Homo sapiens: one gene and its partners. The protein of the gene in region 4 interacts with the protein of the main gene of each other region in a pairwise test. Each region holds a gene or a part of one and is shown on either strand. Other genes may lie near its edges. The genes, in order: MCM6, MTCL2, ZNF250 and FAM161A.

What was found.
Region 1: the proteins of FAM161A (region 4) and MCM6 interact in binary tests that used the Homo sapiens proteins (3 or more experiments, as listed by UniProt).
Region 2: the proteins of FAM161A (region 4) and MTCL2 interact in binary tests that used the Homo sapiens proteins (3 or more experiments, as listed by UniProt).
Region 3: the proteins of FAM161A (region 4) and ZNF250 interact in binary tests that used the Homo sapiens proteins (3 or more experiments, as listed by UniProt).

Annotation. Positions count from the first base shown.
Region 1 is NC_000002.12:135,839,102-135,845,451, reverse strand, and holds the end of MCM6 (DNA replication licensing factor MCM6), read left to right. Parts: intron 1-767; coding exon 768-907; intron 908-4,500; coding exon 4,501-4,617; 3' UTR 4,618-5,826; downstream 5,827-6,350. UniProt on the Homo sapiens protein: Acts as a component of the MCM2-7 complex (MCM complex) which is the replicative helicase essential for 'once per cell cycle' DNA replication initiation and elongation in eukaryotic cells.
Region 2 is NC_000020.11:36,790,537-36,797,568, forward strand, and holds part of MTCL2 (microtubule cross-linking factor 2), read right to left. Parts: coding exon 6,966-7,032; intron 6,417-6,965; coding exon 6,346-6,416; intron 4,064-6,345; coding exon 2,713-4,063; intron 1-2,712. UniProt on the Homo sapiens protein: Microtubule-associated factor that enables integration of the centrosomal and Golgi-associated microtubules on the Golgi membrane, supporting directional migration. Preferentially acts on the perinuclear microtubules accumulated around the Golgi.
Region 3 is NC_000008.11:144,891,434-144,898,465, reverse strand, and holds part of ZNF250 (zinc finger protein 250), read left to right. Parts: intron 1-3,233; exon of another isoform or gene 3,234-3,323; intron 3,324-7,032. UniProt on the Homo sapiens protein: May be involved in transcriptional regulation.
Region 4 is NC_000002.12:61,824,334-61,830,078, reverse strand, and holds the end of FAM161A (protein FAM161A), read left to right. Parts: intron 1-2,820; coding exon 2,821-2,975; intron 2,976-3,479; coding exon 3,480-3,624; 3' UTR 3,625-5,231; downstream 5,232-5,745. UniProt on the Homo sapiens protein: Involved in ciliogenesis.

The DNA of each region.
Region 1 (6,350 bases), about 74 Mb from region 4:
TCAGCTTTTGTCCTCATTCGCGTCTCACACAAAATGATTTGGGAACTCAAGGTGTTCTTGATTCATGTTATATGTCATTATTCTCTTTCTCCCTCATACAAGTAAGTTTTAAACACAGCAGAAGTTGAGTTTTATGATAGTTATGTTATCCAGGTCCAAACATTTCCTATGTGTTGAGGGTTCTTACCAGGACTTTCTAAAAGTCTGGTAGACCTTGGACTTGTTAAAAGCAGCAGGCAGTTCACTTAGTAAGATGAACCTTGCTAAAATAAACAGGTAATTTTTTATTTTGAGTGAATACTCATGAATTTTACTTCTTAGTAAACTCCAGTTCCATAAAGCCTTCCCCTTTCTACAGAGGAAAAGTTGTTATATTTCAGAATTTTTGCTTGCTGTTGCTTCATTCCTAATTTATGCTTTTAGTTTCTGTTGGCAAGCATTCTCAGAGGTGGTGAAGCATAAGAAGATGAAGAAAAGACCTTCATACTTTGAAATCTTAATAGCTTTAAGAAACATATTTCTTATAATCTATTTTATTAGGTTTCTCTCCTTATGGATAAAATAAGGCATGCTTTAATACAAGTGATATGACTTGTTATTTCAGGCTTATGCTAGAACATTGCGGACCTTACGTCACCAGATGTACTTTCGGACGGCTTGACATTTATCTAATCTGTACATTATCTCGTTGTATATGTGGCAGAGATTTACCCAAGGACTGACAGTACGAGTTGCTAGGATAATTTGAATGTGTTTTTTTGTTGCAGAAGAGGACGAGTCAGCATTAAAGAGGAGCGAGCTTGTTAACTGGTACTTGAAGGAAATCGAATCAGAGATAGACTCTGAAGAAGAACTTATAAATAAAAAAAGAATCATAGAGAAAGTTATTCATCGACTCACACACTATGTAGGTGCAGAAGTGCGCGTGCTCTGGTATCAGGGAGGGAGGGAGTTCATGCCCTGTATCTGCAGGTTCACTAGTGAAATTTTTTTTGACCTTTGTTTGTTTTGAATCATTGGAGTGTAGTCAGAAGTATGAGTTGTAAAATAAGAGAGAATGAACAGCAGGTAAATGACTTATTTCCTCTGCTGAAACAAGCAGAATTTAGGTTAAATCTCAGAAGGTGGGATTGAAGTCTTACTAGTTAGGTGTTTTAAGCTTCTGTTTCCCATCCTCATATTTGCCCTTGGTCGTACTGCTGTCACCTACTTTCTATGTTTCATTTTCCTCACATTCTTAGTTCCCACCTTACCCAACCCAATAGTCAATCTTCCATCTTACTTGCTTGGCGAAACCCCAAACTTGGTTAAATATAACTTTTTTTTTTTTTTGTATCCTTATCTAAGCAGCTGAAAGTATCTGGAGAAAAGCATATAATTATGAGCCCAGTCTTATTTAAATCGATGACCAGAAATCTCAAGTGGACAGTTCTTACTGTCTCATCAACCTCATGACAGCACTGCCCAGTGCAATTCCTTTTCCCGGGTCAGTTCTTTGCCTCACTCTCTCACAGGCCCATCACATACCTTCTCTCCACTCCTGTCAGCTGGCCATTCTCAGTACTCAGCCTGTCCACAGCTTTGTCACAGTTGATCACTCCTACAAATAGTGTCTTCCTCACTTGGTTCTGAGTCACTGTATCCTCCTGGGGCTTCTTTCTCACTGGTTATTCCCTCTTAGTCTCTTTCCCTGAATGGTTTTGTTTTTTTTTTTTTTTTTTGAGACAGAGTTTCGCTCTTGTTGCCCATGCTGGAGTGCAGTGGCATAGCTCACTGCAGCTTCCACCTCCTGGGTTCAAGCGATTCTCCTGTCTCAGCCTCCCAAGTAGGATTACAGGCGCCGGCCACCACGCCCGGCTAATTTTTTAATTTTTTTTTTTTAGTAGAGATGGGGTTTTGCCATGTTGGCCAGGCTGATCTAGAACTCCTAACCTCAGGCGATACGCTCACTTTGGCCTCCCAAACTGCTGGGATTACAGGCGTGAGCCACCGTGCCTGGCCTGAATCTTTCTCTTCTTACTTTACTCTCAGATAGTTTACATTCATTACCTAAGTGATCTCATTTGGTTTTATGAATTTATCCATCTACTGATGACTTCCACATTTATGTCACCAGCTCTCACCACTCCTGTAAACTCCAGATGTATAGAGCTGGTTGCCTACTGATGAGCGTTTAACAGGCATCTCGTGCTTAATGTGTTCAAAAACAGAGTTGTTCTTCCCTGTTTGCAGTTGAGTTGTTCTTACTCAATTGCTATAGGCCAAATGCCTTGGAATTGTCTTTGACTCCTTGATTCCACTCTCCCCTCACAGCTCCTCTTCAGCAGCAAATCCTCTGACCCCCAGCTTCAGTGTGTGTATATTTTCTTTTCTCTTTTTACCGCCTTCACCAGCCCACCCAAGCCACCAGGCATGGACTGTTGCAGAAGCCTCATAAAATTGTCCTTTTTTTGTATTGGCTTCTTGCTCAGCAGCCAGATAAGTCTTTTTAAAATATAAATCAGATTATTTTACTACCCTCCCTTCCAGTGCTTCTCTCACATTAGAAGGAAATTCAGCCTCCTTGTCATGGCCTGCAGAACTATTATACAGTGTAACCCCTGTCCCCTCATTCACCTAATTTCACAGCAGTCTTCCCCATACCCATTTCACCCCAGTGACACTGGCCTTGATCCCTAGGCACACCAAATATGAGGGCCTTTGCACTCACCCTTTGTCCATTTCCCTAGATATCCTCCTCCTCTCCAATGTCTGCTCAAATGTTACCTCTTCAAAGAAACCTTTCTTGCTAGCCTGCCAAAATAGTAGCCTTCTGCTCTTGCTGTCACCCTGCCTTGTATTTCTTCGTAATGTTTAACATGGCCCAGCAGTATATTCTTTATTTAAGTGGTTAGTTTGTCTCTCTTATGGAATATAAGCTCTGTGAGGGTAGAGACTTTGCCCCGGAGCTACAGTGGTACCTGGCACATAGCAGGATCAAATATATGTTGAATGGTTAAATTTTCCTATTATGTGGCAGAGATTTAACTGTCGTGCCAATTCACAGGGCTCACTATATAAATATTACAGAGGTCATGTATTGGGGTTGTGTCTTCTCAAAAACCGTTTTCCTGTGAAGGTAGATCAGTCTGTGATTATTGAGGGGTAGGGAGGTGTAAGAACAGCTACTCAGATCAGGGTCCAGAGTTGCTTTTCTAGTGGTGGGACATGTCTGTGTGCTCCTTGGGATCAGTGTAAAGTAAAACGACCCAGGCAAGGAATCTGCTTCAGGACTTTGGAACACACTGTGAAGCTAACTGATCTAAACTTGAATTACCTATTTATTTATTTATTTATTTATTTATCTTTTGAGAGAGTCTTGCTCTGTTGCCCAGACTGGAGTGCAGTAGCATGATCTCAGCTCGCCGCAACTTCCGCCTTCTGGGTTTAAATGATTCTCTTATCTCAGCCTCCAGAGTAGCTGGGATTACAGGTGCCCGCCACCACTCCCAGCTAATTTTTGTATTTTTAGTAGAGATGGTGTTTCACCATGTTGGCCAGGCTGGTCTCAAACTCCTGACCTCAGGTGATCCACCCACCTCAGCCTCCCAAAGTGCTGGGATTACAGGCATGAGCTACTGCGCTCAGCCTGGATTACCTTTTAAAATTTGGCTTACCACCTGAACTAATTTGCTACAGAAAACTAGAGAGCTTATACTGTGCTGATGAGATATGATGCTTCCTATGAAGGTATGTTAACACATAGAGTGAGTGCTTGAAAGTGTCCAATCTAACTTCAGGGGTAGATTTGAAAGGGCAATTTTTTAAAAAGTGTCCAGTCCCCCTTAGTGGCTTCAGTGTTTATACTGTGGAGCCTTGCCAGACTTCTTAGGATCAAATCACAGTTTCCTGAGTTCCTTTCTATGGGCTTGGCTAGGAGCTCTTCTCATTTGTGGACAGTTTTGACTAACCTGTAATTATATCGTGGGCTTAAAATCTGTCATCAAGATTTTAAGCCAGATGGCATGTTCTACCTTTTTTTTTATTAGCTCAGAGTGAAAAATTTTTCAGATGAATTTTCATAGATTCTTCTCCTAACTCTATGAAATGGTGGTATATGAAAAAGTTCAGTGGTCATAATTAAAAATTGCTGAATGATATTAAGTATGAAACAGACTTCCAATTAATTAGAAGATTTTGCAGAGTTGTTTAACCTTAAAATTCAAGCATTACTTCCTTTTTTGAAGTTGTATTTACAAGCATTTGATGTAATATATTTAAGTATTTCTTAATTTTCCACAAGGGGTTTATGGTATGAAAAGGTCAGCATCCTACTAGGAACAGGGTTTAGCAGAGCACTGATAGTGATTTTTAAAGTGTGGTCCTTTTCCTAGGAGTTTCTAGTTGGGAAATGAAAGAAAATGTTGATAGCAAACACTCGGAAGAAGGGTCAAGTCTTGTATATCTGGACATTGGTATAATACTGCTTGAAACCTGAGGACAAATATTTGTGTTTCACAGGATCATGTTCTAATTGAGCTCACCCAGGCTGGATTGAAAGGCTCCACAGAGGGAAGTGAGAGCTATGAAGAAGATCCCTACTTGGTAGTTAACCCTAACTACTTGCTCGAAGATTGAGATAGTGAAAGTAACTGACCAGAGCTGAGGAACTGTGGCACAGCACCTCGTGGCCTGGAGCCTGGCTGGAGCTCTGCTAGGGACAGAAGTGTTTCTGGAAGTGATGCTTCCAGGATTTGTTTTCAGAAACAAGAATTGAGTTGATGGTCCTATGTGTCACATTCATCACAGGTTTCATACCAACACAGGCTTCAGCACTTCCTTTGGTGTGTTTCCTGTCCCAGTGAAGTTGGAACCAAATAATGTGTAGTCTCTATAACCAATACCTTTGTTTTCATGTGTAAGAAAAGGCCCATTACTTTTAAGGTATGTGCTGTCCTATTGAGCAAATAACTTTTTTTCAATTGCCAGCTACTGCTTTTATTCATCAAAATAAAATAACTTGTTCTGAAGTTGTCTATTGGATTTCTTTCTACTGTACCCTGATTATTACTTCCATCTACTTCTGAATGTGAGACTTTCCCTTTTTGCTTAACCTGGAGTGAAGAGGTAGAACTGTGGTATTATGGATGAGGTTTCTATGAGAAGGAGTCATTAGAGAACTCATATGAAAGCTAGAGGCCTTAGAGATGACTTTCCAAGGTTAATTCCAGTTGTTTTTTTTTTTTTTTAAGTTTATAAAAGTTTATTATACTTTTTTAAAATTACTCTTTAGTAATTTATTTTACTTCTGTGTCCTAAGGGTAATTTCTCAGGATTGTTTTCAAATTGCTTTTTTAGGGGAAATAGGTCATTTGCTATATTACAAGCAATCCCCAAATTTTATGGTCTTCCAGGAAAAGTTATTACCGTTTATGATACTAACAGTTCCTGAGACTTAGCTATGATCAGTATGTTCATGAGGTGGAGCAGTTCCTGTGTTGCAGCTTTTAACAACAGATGGCATTCATTAAATCACAAAGTATGTTAAAGGTCACAAAAGCAAAATAACTGTCTGAGGCTAAGGCCCACGTGGGACAGTCTAATACCCATGAGTACTCAACTTGCCTTGATGTCTGAGCTTTCCAGTGCAATGTGAATTTGAGCAGCCAGAAATCTATTAGTAGAAAGCAAGACAGATTAATATAGGTTAAAACAATGATTTAAATATGTTTCTCCCAATAATTATCTCTTTCCCTGGAATCAACTTGTATGAAACCTTGTCAAAATGTACTCCACAAGTATGTACAATTAAGTATTTTAAAAATAAATGGCAAACATTAAAAACAAGAGTGAATACTCAAGTAGATTTGTCATGGGATTTTTATAAGAAGACTGGTATCAGGTAATGTATCTTTAAAGACTAGGCTGCTCTGCTGACGTAGTAACCATTTTTTATTCCTTTACTTTCCTAATAGCCTTGCTTTCACTTAAGAAAAAAAAAGGCTAGGCACGGTGGCTCACGCCTGTAATCCCAGCACTTTGGGAGGCCAAGGTGAGTAGATCACCTGAGGTCAGGAGTTCGAGACAAGCCTGGCCAACGTGGAGAAAACCTGTCTCTACTAAAAGTACAAAAATTAGCCAGGCATGGTGGTGGGCACCTGTAATCCCAGCTACTCAGGAGGTTGAGGCAGGAGAATTGCTTGAACCCAAGAGGTGGAAGTTGCAGTGAGCTGAGATCATGCCACTGCCCTCCAGCTTGGGCGGCAACAACAACAACAAAAAAAGATTCCCAGGCTTCACCCTCTACAGTCTATGGAAAGTCATGGGAGTCTATTAAAAAAAAACAGACACTATAAACCAAATTAAAAGAT
Region 2 (7,032 bases), on a different chromosome or scaffold from region 4:
CAATTCTCCTGCCTCAGCCTCCCGAGTAGCTGGGACTATAGGCGCATGCTGCCACGCCTGGCTAATTTTTTGTATTTTTTAGTAGAGATGGGGTTTCACTGTGTTGCCCAGGCTGGTCTTAAATTCCTGAGCTCAGGCAATCCACCTGCCTCGGCCTCCCAAAGTGCTAGGATTACAGGCGTAAGCCACCATGCCTGGCCTCTTTTTTTTTTTTTTTAATGTAGAGATGAGCTCTCACCATGTTGCTCAGACTGGTCTTGAACTCCTAGCTCAAGTGATCTGCCCACCTCAGTCTCCCAAAGTGCTGGGATTAGAGACATGAGCCATTGCACCTGGCCAAAAAAGGAATAAATATTTAAAAGATGTTTTTAAATGTCAGCCAGCTGAGTGAGAGTATAGAAAAGTAACGCACTCGCCACACACTGCTGGAAGCTGTAGATATGGCACACTTTTGAAAAACAATTTGGCAGTATTTATCAAATAACTTTAAAACATTTATATTTTTTTTTTTGTGTGGAGATGGAGTCTCACTCTGTCACCCAGGCTGGAGTGCAGTGGTACCATCTCAGCTCACTGCAGCCTCCGCCTCCTGGGTTCACGCGATTCTCCTGCCTCAGCCTCCTGAGTAGCTAGGACTACAGGTGACCACCACTATGCCCGGCTAATTTTTGTATTTTTAGTACAGACAGGGTTTCACCATATTGGCCAGGCTGATCTCAAACTCCTGACCTTGTGATCCACCCGCCTCGGCCTCCCAAAGTGCTGGGATTACAGGCATGAGCCACCGCGCCCGGCCACATTTATATTCTATTATCCTTTAATCTCATTTCTGCAACTTATACCTAAGGAAATAGTCTGAAATGTAAAAAAATGATTTTGCACCAAGATGTTCACCACAGCATTATTTGCAGTAGGGACAAACTAGAAACCACCTAAACGTACAATAATAGAAAAGTAGAATGTTTGAGTCTATCACAGCCCATTCCACACACAGCCCTTCTCATGTCTCTGTGCCCCACAGCAGACCACATGGTACCACTCCCAGCCATAGACTGGACCAAGGGGTACACTCGCCTCTAGCTGCACCAATCAGAGTTTCCTTCTTTCAGAAATGTGGAATTGGGAGACAGGGATTTGTGTCAGTCTCTCCTAGGGGCTTGAACTGGAAGATGTTGTAAAGTCAGAGCTGGGACAGCCCACCCAGTCCTTGTGCAAATGCAACAGAGAGAGAAACAGAGAAAAAGGAGGAATATGATATCAGAGAGGGTGAAGCTTAAAGAGAGGAGAGGAAGACAGGGAGAAGCTGCTGAGGTTGTCAGGTTCCTACTCTTGGGTTTTATAAAACATGCCATCCTTCAAATACATTTCCTTCCCTTTCTGCAAAGTTAACTTATGCACATTCTAACACATTCAAATAATGCTCACTAACATTCAAATAAGGTTTACTAATTAACTTATAAGAAACTGATAGCAGGAGTGGGGTGTGAAAGATTCTCAGAGGAAATGTGAGCACTTAGGTGTGAAGTCTTGATGGGGTGGAGAAGTGGTATGCCCGCTAATGTTTAACAATTAGTTTTCCAGGAGTGATAGGAGGAGCCCCGATTTGTAGTGTTTACCAATTTTTATGCTGTAAATCCTCCCACTGTGGCCAATCTCAAGGTACCAAGGTGATGTTAAACACAGAGATGTGGCCAGGCGCGGTGGCTCACGCCTGTAATCCTAACACTTTGGGAGGCCAAGGTGGGCGGATCACTTGAGGTCGGGAGTTCGAGACCAGCCTGGCCAACATGGTGAAACCCCGTCTCTACTAAAAAATACAAAAATTAGCCGGGCATGGTGGCAGGTGCCTTAATCCCAGCTACTTGGGAGGCAGAGACAGAATTGTTTGAACCCAGGAGGCGGAGGTTACAGTGAGCCGAGATTGAGTCATTGCACTCAAGCCTGGGGGACAAGAACGAGACTTCTCTCAAAACAAAAACAAAAACAATAAAAAAAAAAAAACCCACAGAGATGCTGACAATTGGCTCCTGCAAGCCAAACAAGCTGGCTCTAGCACACCACTGGGTGGCAGGAGAGCAGTAAGGCCCCTTCCCTGGAGGGGATGCTGGCAGTCTCTGGTGGGTGGAGCAAAAGCTGCTAGTTAAGCCATGCTCACTAGTCTCTTGGAATTCAGACCATGTGACCATCAGGTCTGTGTTGTTCCAGGTCTGGGACCTTCCAACTCTATCCTAGACCAGCATAAGAACTTCCTGGAACACATGGCCATATCCCTGAATTTTTATTTTATATATATAGATATATAGATAGATAGATAGATAGATAGACAGACAGACAGACAGACAGACAGACAGACAGACAGACAGATAGATAATTTTTTTTTTTTGGTGAGACGGAGTCTTAGTCTGTCACCCAGGCTGGAGTGCAATAGCACAATTTCAGCTCACTGCAACTTCCGCCTACTGGGTTCAAGTGATTCTCCTACCTCAGCCTCCAGAGCAGCTGGGACAACAGGTGCATGCCACCACGCCTGGCCAATTTTTGTATTTTTAGTAGAGATGGGGTTTCACCATGTTGGCCAGACTGGTCTTGAACTCCTGATCTCAGGCGATCCACCCACCTCGGCCCATATCTCTGAACTTAAAAACCAAAAGAGCTTGGACCTTATATACTAACTCCACCTACTAAGAGAAAGGACAGATCCCACCCACCTACCTCATTGGGAAGGACCACGGCTCCATCTCCGTCCCGGAGGACACCATCCTTCCCCACCTGGGGGAGCATGGTGAGTCTGACCTCCTCACTGCTGCCCAACTTGGCTGCCTTCTTGTTCAGGATCCTGGCCACACCCTCTGGCTGATGGTAGCTGGCTGGGGAGAGGGGCTCTGGCTTCTTGGTGCCCTCCTCTCCTGCTGATGAGGTGGGGCTCGGTGCCCGGCCACACACATTACGGAAGAATTCCTGCACAATGCCGTACTTGGGAGGCTCGGGCTTGGCCCGCGTCTCAGACATGCCTAGTTTCCAGACAGACTCCGTGCTCCCTGAGTGCTCCACCACACTGAAGAGGCTGGAGAGTCCATCGTTGATGTTTCTCAATACAGGGCTGTCCCGCGTGGTGGTGGAGCGGGCCCAGGCCGAGCCGTTCTGCTTGCCCTGGTGCAGGTTCCACAGGCTGCGGTCCTTGCTGCTGTCCAGCTTGGACACAGACCGCCTCTGGAGCTTTGGTGAGCCATACTTGGGGGAGCAGCAGGGCCGCTCGATGCGCGAATGGACCTTGTCCAGGGAGGAGGAGATCTGCTTGCTGCGCACAGACACGAGCGAAGAGCTGCGGGGTGACCAGGCCTTGCCATGGAGGCTGCTGCGGGGTGGGTCGGTCTGCAGGCCCACGCTGACCGTGCGGATGGTCTGTGTGCCCACACTGGCCAGGCCCACCGTCTGGCTGGATGTGCTCTTCACTTTCCTCTCCAGTGAGCCGGAGCGCATGGCCTGGCGCACACAGTTGGTGATCTCCTTCATGTCATCACTCATGTTGCCTGACATCTCAAAGTCATGCAGGGCCGCTGGGAAGCCAGGCCCGGCCGCCGAGGGGCTGCCCGCTGAGCCTCCGTCCAGGCGCTGCCGTGAGAAGTTGCAGAGCCACCGACCATAGGAGCTCTCAGCCAGCCCATCAGCCTCGGCCGACTCTTTGGGCTTGGCTGTGGTGAAGAGGAAGCCGGGCTCGATAATGATCTTGCCCTCTTTGTCATGAACCACAGGGACTCCGAGGCGCCGGGCCACCGGGGGACTATAGTAGACTCGGATGCCCGTCTTGTCAGGAGCCGTGTAGCTGCGCTGCATCTGCCTCCCTGGGGGGTCCTGGCAGGCCAGGGCACCCAGGTGGTTGCAGTCCCTCGACGAGAGCCCAGGCTTCTCCTTGGTGTCTTTCTCTGGATCCCCTGGCTCGGAGCTCACAAAGCCAAAGGCAGGGTTGTTAGGCAGCTTCTTGCCCCGGGCATCTCCGCCAGCAAGGTAAGGGGAACAGTCGAGCAAACTTTCAAACTCAGACATGGAAGAAACAGATTTGGTTCTGCGAAGGACAGAGGAGGAAACGTCGTTATTAGTGGAAATAACACTGAGGGCACACTCTGGTCTACCACCCTGGTCCGTGTGCTGCGTGAGGGCAAAGACCAGGACCGTCTTGTTCACCTCTTGTAGAGATGTTGTTGGTGCCCAGTCCCACATTCTGTCTGCATTTTCTTTTTTTTTTTTTTCTCCCAAACAGGTCTTGATATGTCACCCAGGCTGGAATGCAGTAGTGCAATAATAGCTCACTGCAGCCTCAAACTCCTGGGCTCAAGTGATCCTCCCATTTCAGCCTCCAGAGTAGCTGGGACTACAGGTGTGCACCACCAAACCTGGCTTTTTTTTTTCTTTTTTTTTTCTTGAGACAGAGTCTTGTTCTGTCACCCAGGCTGGAGTGCAGTGGCATGATCTCGGCTCACTACAACTTCCACCCTCCAGGTTCAAGAGATTCTCCTGTCTCAGCATCCGGAGCAGATGAAATTACAGGCGTGCGCCACCACGCCCAGCTAATTTTTGTATTTTTAGTAGAGACGGGGTTTCACCATGTTGGCCAGGCTGGTCTGGAACTCCTGACCTCAGGTGATCCACCCGCCTCAGCCTCCCAAAGTGCTGGGATTACAGATGTGAGCCACTGTGCCCAGCCTAACACCTGGCTAATTTTTAAAAAATTTTTTGTAGAGATGGGGATCTCCCTATGTTGCCCAGGCTGGTCTCAAACTTCTGGCCTCAAGAGATCTTCCTGCCTCTGCCTCTCAAAATGCTGGGATTAGAGGCATGAGCCACTGCACCTGGCCTCTCTTTGCACTTTCACCTATACACCTAAAACTGCATACTCTGAACTGCATACTCCACCATTCTCTATCTGATGGTTTTTTTTTCTGCCTGTGGGATCATACTTGGCTGTCCTACACATAGAAGAAGCTAGACCCAGCACTTTGGGATGCTGAGGCAGGCAGATCACCTGAGGTCAGGAGTTTGAGACTAGCCTGACCAAGATGGTAAAACCCTATCTCTTAGTAAAAATACAAAAATTAGCCAAGCGTGGTGGCGTTAGCCTGTAACCCCAGCTACTCAGGAGGCTGAGGCAGGAGAATTGCTTGAACCTGGGAGGTGGAGGTTGCAGTAAACTAAGATTGTGCCATTGCACTCCACCCTGGGAGACAGAGCAAAACTCTGCCTCAAAAAAAAAACAAAAACAAAAAAAACAAAACACACGCCCAAACCGAAGCTAGAGATAGCACAGAGTTAATGAGTTCACACCCCTAAACACAGCCCTCAACAAACAATAGGTGGGATATGGTGAACAAGTGCCCCAGCCTCCTTGTGGTGGGATGACTCTAAGCTGCATGTTCTCCTCTGGCTCCCTGAGTTCCTCCGACAGCCTGAACTCCAGTTGCCCGTGGAATAACCTGGTTGAAGCTCCTTTTATCGGCTGCTTTCCCTTCCCTGTCTCACTTCCAAGTGTTTCCTGAAATTCTGTCCCAAATAAACCATTTGCACTTAAATCTTTGTCTCAGGGTTTGCTTATGGGGGAACCCAAACTAAGACGCCATGAAGCTCCTGGCACACCTATTGCCTGAATCACTGAACACACCAGGCATATGGAAATGCACGTGTCAGACCACTCTGATTAACTTCAAGAGGCAGCTCCTATCATCCCCACTAGACAGAGATGGGAAGTACTGCTCAAGGTCAAGGTCATAGAGCTAGAACTGGCAGGGCTGGCATTCAAACCTGGCCCTCTGGCTCCACAGCCTGTCCCGCCTGCCTTGCTTCTGGGCTGGTCTGATAGCGGCTGGGGGTTCTGTTTCCCTGACTCCTTTCATGGGTTTCCTAACAGTGGAGACGTGGTCCTTATGGTCTTGGGGTGGGGGTCTCCTTGGCCATAGCACAGGGCTGGGCCCAAAGGATGCTGCTCAATAATCCCAGGAATAGAGGTCAATCTTGACTCTCCTAACTCCAGAGGCAGGAGAAAAGAATCCCAAGAGGAGCAAAATGTTTTGTTTCCACCTGTGTTCCATTCCCGGACTCAAACAACATGCAGCAGCCTGGAATTCCCACTGCCCCAAGCCTTCCAGCTCCTGAGTGGCTCGGGTTCCAGAGAAACCATATCCCGATGCTCTCCCAACTTGGATGCGGTGGGGTGGCGGCAGGAAGAGGGCAAAGGGGCGGGGCAGGGCTGCGGTGAAAGCAGGTAGAGTGGGTGCAGGGCGCAGCAGGAGGTGGAGAGGGGCGAGGCTGTGGGGCCGGTCAGAGAGGCAGAGCAGGGGACCAGCATGCAAGCACCTCTTTAAACCATTTCCTCCAAGCTCAACTTCGGAAACAGCCTCCTTGTCGTGGATCTTCTCACTGCGTGTCTGTCAAGGAAGAGAGACAGGAAGGGTCAGTTCTGGCCACCAGAGCACTAAGGGCATGGAACAAGAGACCAGCCCCGACCTCAGTGCTTGAATCTCCTCATCCGGAGAGCAGGAATGATGTCATCAATGATCTAGCATGGTCAGTTTCTGGCTGCCCTGCATCCAACTCCCCCACCATATGTGATCCAGGCTGGGCCAATCAGAGCTCCAAGAGTGACCCACCCAAGGAAAGGGACCACTTAAAATTTAATCCAAATGTGGTGACTGCAACAAAGCATCCAGTGGTCCACTGCTCAGCTGGTGGTGGGCTTGTCTTCTTCCTCCTCAACCCTACCCCCTCACTTAGCCCAGTCCCTGGGTGGTTGGGTTTTTTTTTTATTTTTTTGAGGCAGGAACCATGAGATACAGACTCCAGGGCTGAGGAGCCCAAGGTGCAAGGGTGTGACCTATGAGACAGGGTTAGCAACTTCCTCTCATGTCCCCCACAAGCAGGGACCTTTATGGTGCAGCCAGGAGCCAAGATAGCATGGCAGCAGCCGCCCCACTCACCTCCTTCCAGCTGTTGTCCTGCTTCTCCAGCTCCGAGTGCTTCAGGACCCAGGGGTCGGCAGCCTTC
Region 3 (7,032 bases), on a different chromosome or scaffold from region 4:
CTAAGGTTTAATCTTGTTTCTTGTTGCTATTTGTTGAATAGATTTTTTTCCATTCATATTTTCTGATTAGGTGTTACTGGTATATAAGAAAGCTATCAGTTTGGTTGTTTTTTTGTTTTGTTTTGTTTTGTTTTGTTTTGTTTGTTTGTTTATTTGCTTTTTTTCTTTTGAGATGGAGTCTCACTCTGTTGCCCAGGCTGGAGTGCAATGGCGCGATCTTGGCTCACTGCAAACTCCACCTCCCAGGTTCAAGCAATTCTCATGCCTCAGCCTTGGGAGGAGCTGGAATTACAGGCACGTGCCACCACACCCAGCTAATTTTTGTATTTTTAGAAGAGACGGGGTTTCACCATGTCACCCAGGCTGGTCTTGAACTCCTGACTGTTGGGATCAGGCCCCCCCAAAATCTGGCTATAAACTGGCCCCAAAACCGGCCATAAACAAAATCTCTGTAGCACCGTGAAATGTTCATGATGGCCATAATGCCCACGCTGGAAGGTTGTGGTTGTGGGTTTACCGGAATGAGGGCAAGGAACACCTGGCCGGCCCAGGGTGGAAAACCCCTTAAAGGCATTCTTAAGCCACAAACAATAGCATGAGCGATCTGTGCCTTAAGGACATGCTCCTGCTACAGTTAACTAGCCCAACCTATTCCTTTAATTCGGCCCATCCCTTCGTTTCCCATAAGGGATACTTTTAGTTAAATTAATATCTATAGAAACAATGCTAATGACTGGCTTGCTGTTAATAAATACGTGGGTAAATCTCTGTTCAGGGCTCTCAGCTCTGAAGGCTGTGAGACCCCTGATTTCCCACTTCACACCTCTATATTTCTGTGTGTGTGTCTTTAATTCCTCTAGCGCCGCTGGGTTAGGGTCTCCCCGACCGAGCTGGTCTCAGCACCTGACCTCAGGTGATCCACCCACCTTGGCCTCCCAAAGTGCTGGGATTACAGGCATGAGCCACTGTGCCCGACCAGAAAGCTATCAATTTGGATACATATTTCTGATCATTAATTCTGGAAAGGTTGCAGGTTAGGGTTAGTTTAGGTTAGTTAGGGTTAGTTTAGATTAGGTCAAGTTTAGCAGTGTTTCGCCTTGTGCTCACAAGTGGCTCAGAAGCTGCCTCTCTTGAAAGTGCTTTCACCCTAGCGGGTAGGGGCTCCTTGGTGATGAAGAGGGAGCAGTGCTTGTTAGCAGAAAGTCCAGGGAGTGAGGATGATGAGGAGCAGGAGAAGGCAGTGGCCCTGGAGGAGATCCTGGAAGCTCATCCCAGATCAGGAGACTCCAAATGTGCCTGTCCCAGTGTGTGACCATGTGCAGGGTCCTCTGGAATGACAGGCACACTGCTTTGTCACATCAAGACAGTCAGGAATTCCAAAAAGAGTGATAGGAATGTCTCACTGCGATGTGGCTTTTGATCACCTAAAGAAAACTGGAAAGCCAGTTGCTGCTAATAACGTTGATCTATTGTTTTTGTTTTGGATTATTCCTTAGGGAAATTTTCAAGATTGAAATTCCTGAGTTTGAAAAATTAGCTCCTTATGCTGCCACCTTTGTAACCAGTGGGTGGGAGGGATCATTGCTCAGCCAGTGCCCTGAGTGGGTGTTCTTTATATTGCCCATTTGTTAGCTGTTGGCATGGCCTCAAGAGGGGGCTCCTCAAACTCCACTTCCAGTATTCTGTGGCGGTGATCTCCAGCCTGTCCCAGCCCCTGGCCCTGGAGCCTGGCATCTATAGAGGACTCGTCATTAGCCTGTCTTAATTTTTTAAAACTGTCCACATCATCCTCCTTCCCTGCCTGAACTGTGTTCTCATGGAGCAAAGCTTGGAGTTGGACGTCAGAATCCCGTGAAGTGTGGATGGAGTGTGTTGTTAAAAGCCAGTTTCTGGCACCCCCGATAGCTCTTACATTTTCCTGTCTTGAGTATGCAAGGTTTAGGTTGAGGTCCATGGTGTTTGCCTGGCCTGGTATCCTGTTACAGGCTCGTTCCAGGAAACTGAAACCTTTATCTGCCATAGTGTAAGTAAGGAAAAAATTTAAACTAGTTAATACCACTTTTAAAATGTATTTTGTTCATATTTTTTTTTAATTTTTATTTATTTATTTATTTATTTTGAGACAGGGATTCATTCTGTTGCCCAGGGTGGAGTGTAGTGGTGCAGTTACAGCTTACTGCAGCCTTGACCTCCTGGGCTCAAGCAATCTTCCCATCTCAGCCTCCAGAGTACCTAGGTCTACAAACCAGCTAATTTTTTAAATTTTTTTATAGAGACGGGGTCTCACTATATTGTCCAGGGTGTTCTTGAACTCCTGAACTCAAGCAATTCTCCCACCTTGGCCTCCCAAAGTACTGGGATTATAGGTGTGAGTCACCATGCCCAGCCATTTTTGTTCATTTATTACCAGAATACAATCAGACTTTGTGATAGGATTTTTTTTTTTTTTTTTTTTTTGAGACAGAGTCTTGCTCTGTTATGCAGGCTGGAGTGCAGTGGCACAATCTTGGCTCACTGCAACCTCTGTCTCCCAGGTTCAAGCTATTTTCTTGCCTCAGCCTCCTGAGTAGCTGGGATTACAGGTGCCTGCCACCATGCCTGACTAACTTTTTGTATTTTTAGTAGAGACGGGGTTTCACTATGTTGGCCAGGCTGGTCTCGAACTCCTGACCTTTTGATCCGCCCGCCTCGGCCTCCCAAAGTGCTGGGATTACAGGTATGAGCCACTGCGCCTGGCCGATTTTTTTTTTAATTAGCAATATGTGATGGTCATCTTTCAATAGAGACCTGATACTGCATTTTGTGTGATGCTTTTCTAAGACTCACCCCAGGTGGCAGTCTTTCCCTTTCACTTCTCCTTGCCACACACTTGTTGACAGCCTGGTATTGTCCTTTGGAGTATTTCCTCTGTGTGTTAATCAAATAGATAATAACACCTTATCCAGCAGCATCCTCCTCTGAGCCAAGCCTGTTCTTAGCGCTCTCCTCTCACCAACCACATGATCTCCAGGCCTTCAGAGGAGTGTGTCATCTGGATTTATAGGTGGGGCCTCAATGCAGCTGGCCCAAGTGAGGCAGGTGAACCAGTCCCAGGTCCTTGTGACACACATACCCTTCATGGGCTCGGGGTCATAGTTTACAAAATGAGATTTTCCCCTGCATGCTGGCCCCATGCTGCATTTTCACTCACCCATCTGGTGACCTGACACAACATACATCTTTCTCTTTAGCAGGTGTGTAACTTGTATGTGGAAGGACCAACGTAGCATTTGCCTCAGCAACATCCTTGAATCTGCACCCTCACCCACATCCATTCTTATCAGGTACCCACTATCCAAGGGCCAGTCTGATTTGCCTAAATACTGCTAGGTCGCCTTCTTAAGAGTATGAGAAACTCCACTTTCCCATGCCTGCCAGTTTAAAGTGTTGACTCCGTACTTGGCTATTACAGATGGCATAAAGTGTGAGCTCATTCCTCTTCATTCATTTATTCAACAAACAGGCCGGGTGTGGTGTTCTCAGGCCTGTAATCTTGACACTTTCGGAGGCCAAGGAGGGAGGATCCCTTGAGCCTAGGAGTTCAAGACCAGTCTGGGCAACACAGCAAGACCTCGTCTCTACCAAAAAAAAAAAATTAAGAAATTATCCAGGCATGGTGGTGCAACCTGTATTCCTAGCTACTTGGGATGCTGAAGTGGGAGGATCACCTGAGCCCAGGAGTTGGAGGCTGCATTGAGCTGTGATTGAGCCACTGTACTCCAGCCTGGACTACAAAGTGAGACCCCGTCTCTAAGAAATTAATTAAAAGTTTAAAAAAGTACATTGCCTGGCAATTTGTAATCATTAGCCTAGAAGTAATTAAAAAAAAAAAAAAAAGGTCGACCACTGATTACTCTGTTGGGCCTGCTTCTTGGTCTGCTGGTGCAGGAGAAAGGGATAGGATGAGAGCTGGGTGAGGCCAGGGCTGCTGCGGTGGGTGGGGCAGAGGTCTCTAAGAGTTGGATGGGGAGCACAGGCCAAGGGATAAAGGGCTGCAGGGCTCTGAGGAAAATCACAAAGTTTGGGGCATGCCCATAGGAGCCAGTGGGGTCCTGGGAGGACCTTGGAGCAGAGGACAGTCACTGTGTTCTCACAGGAAGGTAGATGGAGGGGCTGGGCAGACAGACGGTGCTGGGAGTCTGTCTGCCCAGATGGGAGCTGCCGAACATCTAGGGGTGGTTGTCATGGGGCAGGGAGGGCGAGATGGGCAACATGGTCAGGTTCTGGATGTGCTTGGAAGGTGAATAGAAGTGTGGGAGTGAAGAAGGAAGGAGGCTGATGCACAGGCTCACAGACCAAGCTGGGGGTAGAAATGATGGTAGAGGGGGTGCTTGGTTTGGGATGTTAAATGTCTGAGATGCTATGAGACACCCATATTGAAAGGTTGAGTCAGAGGGAAGGGGGATCACGAGCTCAAGTGTACCAAAAGAGCTACTGGGCTCAACTGACTTTTCAGACTCACAGGACAACCATGCCTAGCAGCAGCTTCTCGGAAAAGCTGGCCAGCATCATCCAGCAGCCATCCAGGGAGTACTGAGGTGCATAAACACAAGATGCAGGTAGGAGGAGGAGTTAGCCTAGTCGAAAGCCTCGTGGTCATACAAGCCAGCACCTCCTGTGTCAAGAGAACTGGCTGCAAGACCTGCTAGGGAGGCCCTGAATGTACTTCCTGTGGTTGTTCATCATTGAGTCACAGCCCAGGTGTGATTGGTCCGTAGAGAGAATGACCATCCACCTCTGCCAGGTTTCCAGGGGACCAGAGCTGTGCATTCACCCAAGGTCAAATTCGCATGCAGGGCTAGGCGCAGTGACTCAAGCCTGTAATTCCAGCACTCTAGGAGGCCAAGAGGGGCATATCACTTGAGCTCAGGGGTTCGAGACCAGCCTGGGCAACATGGTGAAACCCCGTACCTACAAAAAGTACAAAAATTAGCCGGGCATGGAGGCAGGTGTCTGTAGTCCCAGCTACTCAGGAGGCTAAGGTAGGAGGATCGCTTGAGCCTGGGAGACGGAGGTTGCAGTGAGCCTAGATCATGCCACTGCACTCCAGCCTGGGTGACAGAGCGAGATTCTGTTTCAAAATAAAGAAATGGCAGATCTGTGCGCTGGTGGGTGACCCATGGAAAGGGTCAGGGTGTGGCAGGAGAGAAGGCACTTCTGCCCTTGAGGGTAGGCAGATGTCAGACAGGGGGACCAGGAGCACATGAGGCCACTGTTAATGCTCACACTTGGTCTTCATCTTAATCCAAAATTGGTTATTGTTGGGCTGGGCGTGGTGGCTCATGCCTGTAATCCCAGCACTTTGGGAGGCCAAGGCGGGTGGATCACCTGAGGTCGGGAGTTCGAGACCAGCCTGACCAAGATGGTGAAAACCCATCTCTACTAAAAATATTTAAAAAATTAGCCGAGCGTGCTGGTGGGTGCTTGTAATCCCAGCTACTCGGGAGGCTGAGGCAGGAGAATTGCTTGAACCTGGGAGGCAGGGGTTGCGGTGAGCCAAGATCACCCCATTGCATCCCAGCCTGGGTGACAGAGCAAGACTTCGTCTCAAAAAAAAAAAAAAATTGGTGGCTGGACACGGTGGCTCACGCCTGTAATCCCAGCACTTTGGGAGGCCAAGGCGGGCGGATCACCTGAGGTCGGGAGTTCAAGACCAGCCTGACCAACATGGAGAAACCCTGTCCCTACTAAAAATACAAAAAAAATTAGCTGGGCATGGTGGCGCATGCCTGTAATCCCAGCTACTTGGGAGGCTGAGACAGGAGAATCACTTGAACCCAGGAGGTGGAGGTTGCGGTGAGCCGAGATCTCGCCGTTGCATTCCAGCCTGGGCAACAAGAGTGAAACTCTGTCTCAAAAAAAAAAACAAACAAAAAAATTGGTTATTGATGTATCCCATCTGGGTACACACAAGTTACTAAAGGAACCACTGATTTCCTGCTGAACTAAAATGTAACATTTTTGTTATCTTCCAATTTCCCACATACCTGTCTGGCTTCATCTGTTCCTCTGTCAACAACTTGTTGGTTTAATTGCAGCGGCTTCCTACCCACCCTTGGCTCTGATTCCTGGCAAGGCAGTCCCCACCCTCTGTTCTTTCCAGTTAAATTCTTGGCTATTCTCTAGCATCCATTCTTCTTATGAATTCTCAAGTAGTTGTAGTCATTCCTTTAAAAGACTTCTGTTGGAATTCTAATTAGAGTTGCATTGCGCTAACACAGAAGTGTGCTCACACACACATTTGGAGGGAATGGGCATTTTTGGAGAACAGCAGCACGGGGGAGGGTTGAAAGTCAGTCTCTCTCCAACTGTGTTTCCCTGTCCTGTTCTTCAGAGGCAGGCAGTTAGTTTATTGTGTATCTTCCTGAAAGTTGTCTGTGCAAATATATACATGTATCTGATGTGTGTTTTTTTTGTTTTGTTTTGAGACAGAGTCTCAGCTGAGATGATCTCAGCTCACTGCAACCTCCACATCCTGGGTTCAAGTGATTCTCCTGCCTTAGCCTCCTGAGTAGTTGGGATTACAGGCACCCGCCACCACACCCAGCTGATTTTTGTTTTTGTTTTTGTTTTGAGATGGAGTTTTGCTCTTGGTTGCCCAGGCTGGAGTGCAATGGCATGATCTCGGCTCATCGCATCCTCCACCTCCTGAGTTCAAGCAATTCTCTTGCCTCAGCCTCCTGAGTAGCTGGGACTACAGGCGTGCACCACCACACCCGGCTAATTTTGTGTTTTTAGTAGAGACGGGGTTTCCCCATGTTGGTCATGGCTGGTCTCGAACTCCCAACCTCGGGTGATCCGCCTGCCTCGGCCTCCCAAAGTGCTGGGATTACAGGCATAAGCCACTGCACCCGGCCTGATTTTTGTATTTTTAGTAGAGACGGGGTTTCACCATGTTGGCCAGGCTGGTCTCAAACTCCTGACCTCCGGTGATGTGCCTGCCTCACCCTCCCAAAGTGCTGAGATTACAGGTATGAGCCACCGCGCCCACCT
Region 4 (5,745 bases):
CTCATTTTCAATGAATGATATCAAGGGGTCTTCTCATTAACTTCTCAAAAAGTATAAACAGAGTTACCATGGCAGTGAATCGCCATTGCTTTTTTTTTTTAGTACATTTTTTGCTGCAGTCTATTTTGCTGGAACTATTGCTGCTAATTAACAGCTGGTTTTTAATAAATTTGCTTGCAGCTATTTGCTTTGCCCATTTATAGGAGTTAATTGTGGTCTCGCTGCTGCTGAGTGATTCCCTAACACAATATGCCTGTGATTCTTTACAGAATAAACTATGTTGTCCTGTTTCTTGGAAATCACAGGATTAATTAACTGAGAAGATGTTAAATTGAATTTTAAACCAAAGTCAGATGAAGGCTTACTGGCACAAATTTTGACTAATGTCTTTTTAATGTCTTATATATTTAATTTGCTGAAGTCAGAATATACTGTTGGTAATGCATTCAGAGCTAGGTTTGGGGTTTCTTTATTCTTCTCTGCAGTCTTTAGGGTATAGTTCTTATTTCTCATTTTGCCCTTCCTTTCAGCTCCCCAAGACTTGTCTTTTGATATTCACAGACTCTGGATGGGTTTTTACTTACTTTTCTAAAAAATATTATTGTTATTCACAGTGAGTGCGTTTTAGCAGCAGTGTTTCTTTTTCAGTTTTCCAGAGTATCAGGAAATGCCCTGGTGATAGTTTTATCTATTGTAATCAGTCCTTGCTATTTCAGGTTCTCCTGTGTAACACTAGACTCCATGGCCCCTCATTATACTAGATTTGGCAAATATCTGACAACTACGTTGCTCAAGTCAGGCTTTAGGTCACCTTCAAACTCTTGACGACCACTACCACTTAGAGAAAGTAGCATGATGTAATATAAAAGACCTAGGAAATGGTCAAGAGACTTGGTTCTACCACTCACTAGCCTTGTGACCTTAGTCAATTTCACCTTTGAGGCGGGGGCCGGGGGAGACTTGGTTTCTTTATTAAATATGGGGGTTAGACTGGGTACTCCTCCACACCCTTCCCAGTATGAATGCCATTGGTACATTGGAACTGGGCCATTCCTAGTATTAGGAATGCTTGCTTTACTTGGAGGTCTTAGCTTTAGTTGGAGGTCCAGAGGGCAATTCTTGGCCCTCTAACAGTTCAGATCCACTCATGGGAGCTAAAATGGGCTAAAGTGGAGGCACTAGTGTGAACCCAGTCACTATGTGGCTCCATAAAGCCTGCCATCTCTGGAGCTGTGATGAGAGGGTCATCACAATTCCAACAGATCTTAAAGCCGGGAAGTGACATTCTACAGATTTGAACCCAGTTCTAAATTCATATTCTTTTTGTTATATCCCTTGCTTCCTCCACAGAGTAAAGATTACAACACTGGTGCTTTTATCATCTTTAATGGATTGGGGATATGGCTTATAAAGAGTAAAAATTACAGTAGATACATAAAATAAAAGAAATTGGCTGGGTGCCATGGCTCATGCCTGTAATCCCAGCACTTTGGGAGGCCAAGGCCGGTGGATCACTTAAACCCAGGAATTCAAGGCCATCCTGGACAACATAGTGACGCCCCGTCCTACAAAAAATACAAAAATTAGCTGGGCATGGTGGCACGCGCCTATGGTCCCAGCTACTCCAGAGGCTGAGGTGGGAGGATCGCTTGAGCCCAGCAGGTTGAGGCTGCAGTGAGTTGTGTTTGCACCACTGCACTCCAGCCTGGGTGACAGAGCAAGACCCTTTTTCAAAAAAAAAAGGAAAAAGAATCCTCTGACAACAATTATTGCATGAAATCTTTTTTTTTTTTTCAGATATCTTTATACAGTCATAAAAGTATATAAAACCTAGGTACAATATAAAAAATAATTATAGATCAATCTAATGTGGCCACCACCCATGTTAACAAATAGACCATTGCCAGCACCCCAAAAACCCTATGTGCCATTGCAGATCACAGCCCTCTACCTCTCCCCAAGAGGTAACCACCATTCTAACTTTCAGGATAAGTACTTCCTTGTTTTTCTTTGCAATTTTACAGTGTGTGTACCTATCCTCAAACAATATAGTTGTTTTGCCCATTTCTGAACTTTATATAGATCATACAATATGTACTTGTCAGTGCTTTGCTTCTTTTGCTCAGTATTATATTTGTGAGATCTATCCATGTTGTGGCATGTAACTGTAGTTCATTCATTTTCCTTGCTTTGTTTCACTCCATTATAGGAATAGACCACAATTTATTTATCCATTCTGCTACTAATAGATATTTGGGTGATTTCCCATTTGGGGTTATTGAAGGACAGTACTATCCTGAACATTCTTGAACATGTCCTCCCTTGGGACTCATATGTGGGAGCTTCTCTGGTTATATTCCTAGGAGTGTAATTGTTGGTCATAGGGTATGCAGATTTTCAAACAACTGTGACTGCTGAACTTAATTATCACCAGTACTTTTAATCCATATTTTTTTTTTTTTTTTTTTTGAGACAGAGTCTTGTTCTGTCACCCAGGCTGGAGTACAGTGGCGCGATCTCGGCTCACTGCAAGCTCCGCCTCCCAGGTTCACGCCATTCTCCTGCCTCAGCCTCCCGAGTAGCTGGGACTACAGGCGGCCACCACCACGCCCGGCTAATTTTTTGTATTTTTAGTAGAGACGGGGTTTCACCGTGTTAGCCAGGATGGTCTTGATCTCCTGACCTCGTGATCCACCCGTCTCGGCCTCCCAAAGCACTGGGATTACAGGCGTGAGCCACCGCGCCTGGCCTAATCTATACATTTTTGATGAAAATTTAAAGTCTTCTGTTCTCGTCTAAAAAGGTTTGTCTTTCCTATAGAAAAATGCAAGAATGGCAGCAGAAAAGCATTATTCTAATACCCTAAAAGCACTAGGAATATCTGATGAGTTTGTTTCAAAGAAAGGCCAAAGTGGAAAAGTACTTGAGTACTTCAACAATCAAGAGACGAAAAGTGTCACTGAAGACAAAGAAAGGTAACATATATAAGATGTCTGAATGGCTTACCTTTGAAAAAATTATTACCTGCAGAAAAGCACAATTTTATACTATGTATATTTTTTGTTCTATATTGTTTTAAAAAGATCTTTTACCCAATAGTAAAAGACATATGAACTGTTGTAAAACACACTGATATTTTAACATGTTTGACACATTAACGTTCACATGAAGTATTTTATTTTTAAAGCAGAATAACAGATTTCTTAAAGACATAAGTAACAAAAATAATAGCATGCTTTCAAATGAAGTTTAAAGAAACAATCACTCAAATTTTGAAATAAATTAGTTTTCAGGAATATTAAATTTCTCAATGGGCACTTTTATAGCGTTTTCTTCTTTTTTTTGAGTTGTCTTGGTAACAAATTGGAATTCATACACTTGAGGAAGACTGGCTACACGGTGGCATACTTGCAGAGGGTTTGTTTACCTTTAAACCAACTCATTTTTCCTTTGAAAGATTGATAAATTTCTTCCCCTAGCTTTAATGAAGAAGAAAAAATAGAAGAAAGAGAGAATGGGGAAGAAAATTATTTTATTGATACCAACAGCCAGGATTCTTACAAGGAAAAAGATGAAGCCAATGAGGAAAGTGAAGAAGAGAAATCTGTTGAAGAATCACACTGAATCATCAAGGTCTCCTCTCTATGCCCTTGCTGTTGTTTGCAGCGTCAGGGTGTCAGCAGCCGCATTTGTGTTTAGAACATCTGTGGGGACGCTTCTGATATGTGCAGGGCTGTTGATCAAAGTCATCTGTAGCCTGAAAAGCCTGAATCCAGCTGATTGGTCATTTGATCAGTTAGAGTAAGGCTTTGCCTATTCAGTTTTAAAAATCATTGTGTATTATCTGTTTGCAACTATGATTTTGTATTTTTAAAAAGTGAGAACCACAGCTGTCACAAACTGATTAGTTATAAAAATATACATTATTTCATTAATTTTACTGGAAAAAATGGCTTAGTATTGAAAGGAGAGAGAAGTATTGGTCTTTGGTGGTTTACTTTTTAAAAATTTTGGAAAGTGTGAATCAATAACTATTTTTAATTATACTATTTGCCCATTCTTTTTCTCTGCAGTGCATTTCACAGAATAAATCCTCTAACTTGTTTTGCTGCTCTGAGCCATTTTTAAAAGTATAGAAAAAACGCCGGGTATGGTGGCTCATGCCTGTAATCCCAGCATTTTGGGAGGCCGAGACGGGTGGATCACGAGGTCAGGAGATCGAGACCATCCTGGCTAACACGATGAAACCCCGTCTCTACTAAAAATACAAAAAATTAGCCAGGCGTGGTGGTGGGCGCCTGTAGTCCCAGCTACTTGGGAGGCAGAGGCAGGAGAATGGCATGAACCCAGGAGGCAGAGCTTGCAGTGAGCCGAGATCGCGCCACTGCACTCCAGCTTGGGCAACAGAGCGAGACTCCGTCTCCAAAAAAAAAAAAAAAGTATAGAAAAAAATGGATACTTGCAAATTTACATTTATTTTTGCACTGAGAGTTTACTGTTAAATTGTCTACACCATCATCCCTTTTTCTTTTTATCCTTAGTTCTAGTCCAAATTATTTTTGATTTGTAAATTATTAGGAAAGTTTTTATACTAGTTTTTTTAACCCTATGTATTATTACAGATGGAAGTAATTATGGCATGTGTGAGTTATAATCTAAATTAGGGGCAAGTATCCCTTTTTTTATATGATGAAATTGTGCATAATAACTTGGCTAGGGCAAGTCTCCAAAGTAATTCAGATTTAACTCTTCACTGCTAGACCCAGTTGTGTTCAACTTTTTACATATTATTGCCAACACACTTTATCTCTCTGTGTACAGTGTTAATCTGATTTTATAAATCTATATTTTTTTCTTTAAGCAAATTTTTGTTTTAAAATTTGAAGCCAATCATAAAGATAATATAGCATAAGACATTTTCTTTTCTAAAAACAATCAGCATCATTTTAAAAGGATGAACTAATACAGGTGTATGTAATAGCAGTGTTTCCAAACTGGCAATTTATGCTTTAAATTTAAAAATAAGGTCATTTTTCTCCATCAGGGGCAAATGTTTACTTGTAATTTTCTTCCTACAGTTCGTGTTAAATTACTTTTTACTATTATTATATTGTAAACTCCTTGGGATTTGGCACCATTTAAAAATTCATCTTTGTATTCCCTTAATATTTGGAACAGTATTGTACATATGGTAGGTACTTAATAAAGGTTTGAATGAGTGTGTAGATGAATATGGTTTTTATATACTTACAGCTACTTCAGAATGAGTACACATGGGATTAAAAACATTTCCCTCCTAGCTCATTGGGAGCCTGTGAAACACAATCTACAAATTGTAATAGTACTTAAAACATTACTTGCTTTCAAGGATTCACTCCACAGCCTGTCCCTTCTCAATTTCATGAGGAGAGTGTGGGCTTTGGTCATGAAACACTTGGCTTCAGGACCAATCTTGTTTTCTTACCTTTAAAAAAAAAATGGGAATATTACCTATCTTGAGTGGCTGTAGGAAGGACTGGATGAAATCATATATGGAAAGGTCTTTGCAAACTGTGATATTCAAATGATGGTGTCAGAAGACAGAATATTCCTGAGGAAACTGTTAACTTAAAATACTTGTACTTAAATGAGATACACTGTGATTTAAATATTATTTGGTTAGAAATAACTTTTGAAGCACTTTGTTAGACATGATCTGGTTAACACAGAACCAAAGTTAAAAAAAGAGGGAGAGAGACACTGACA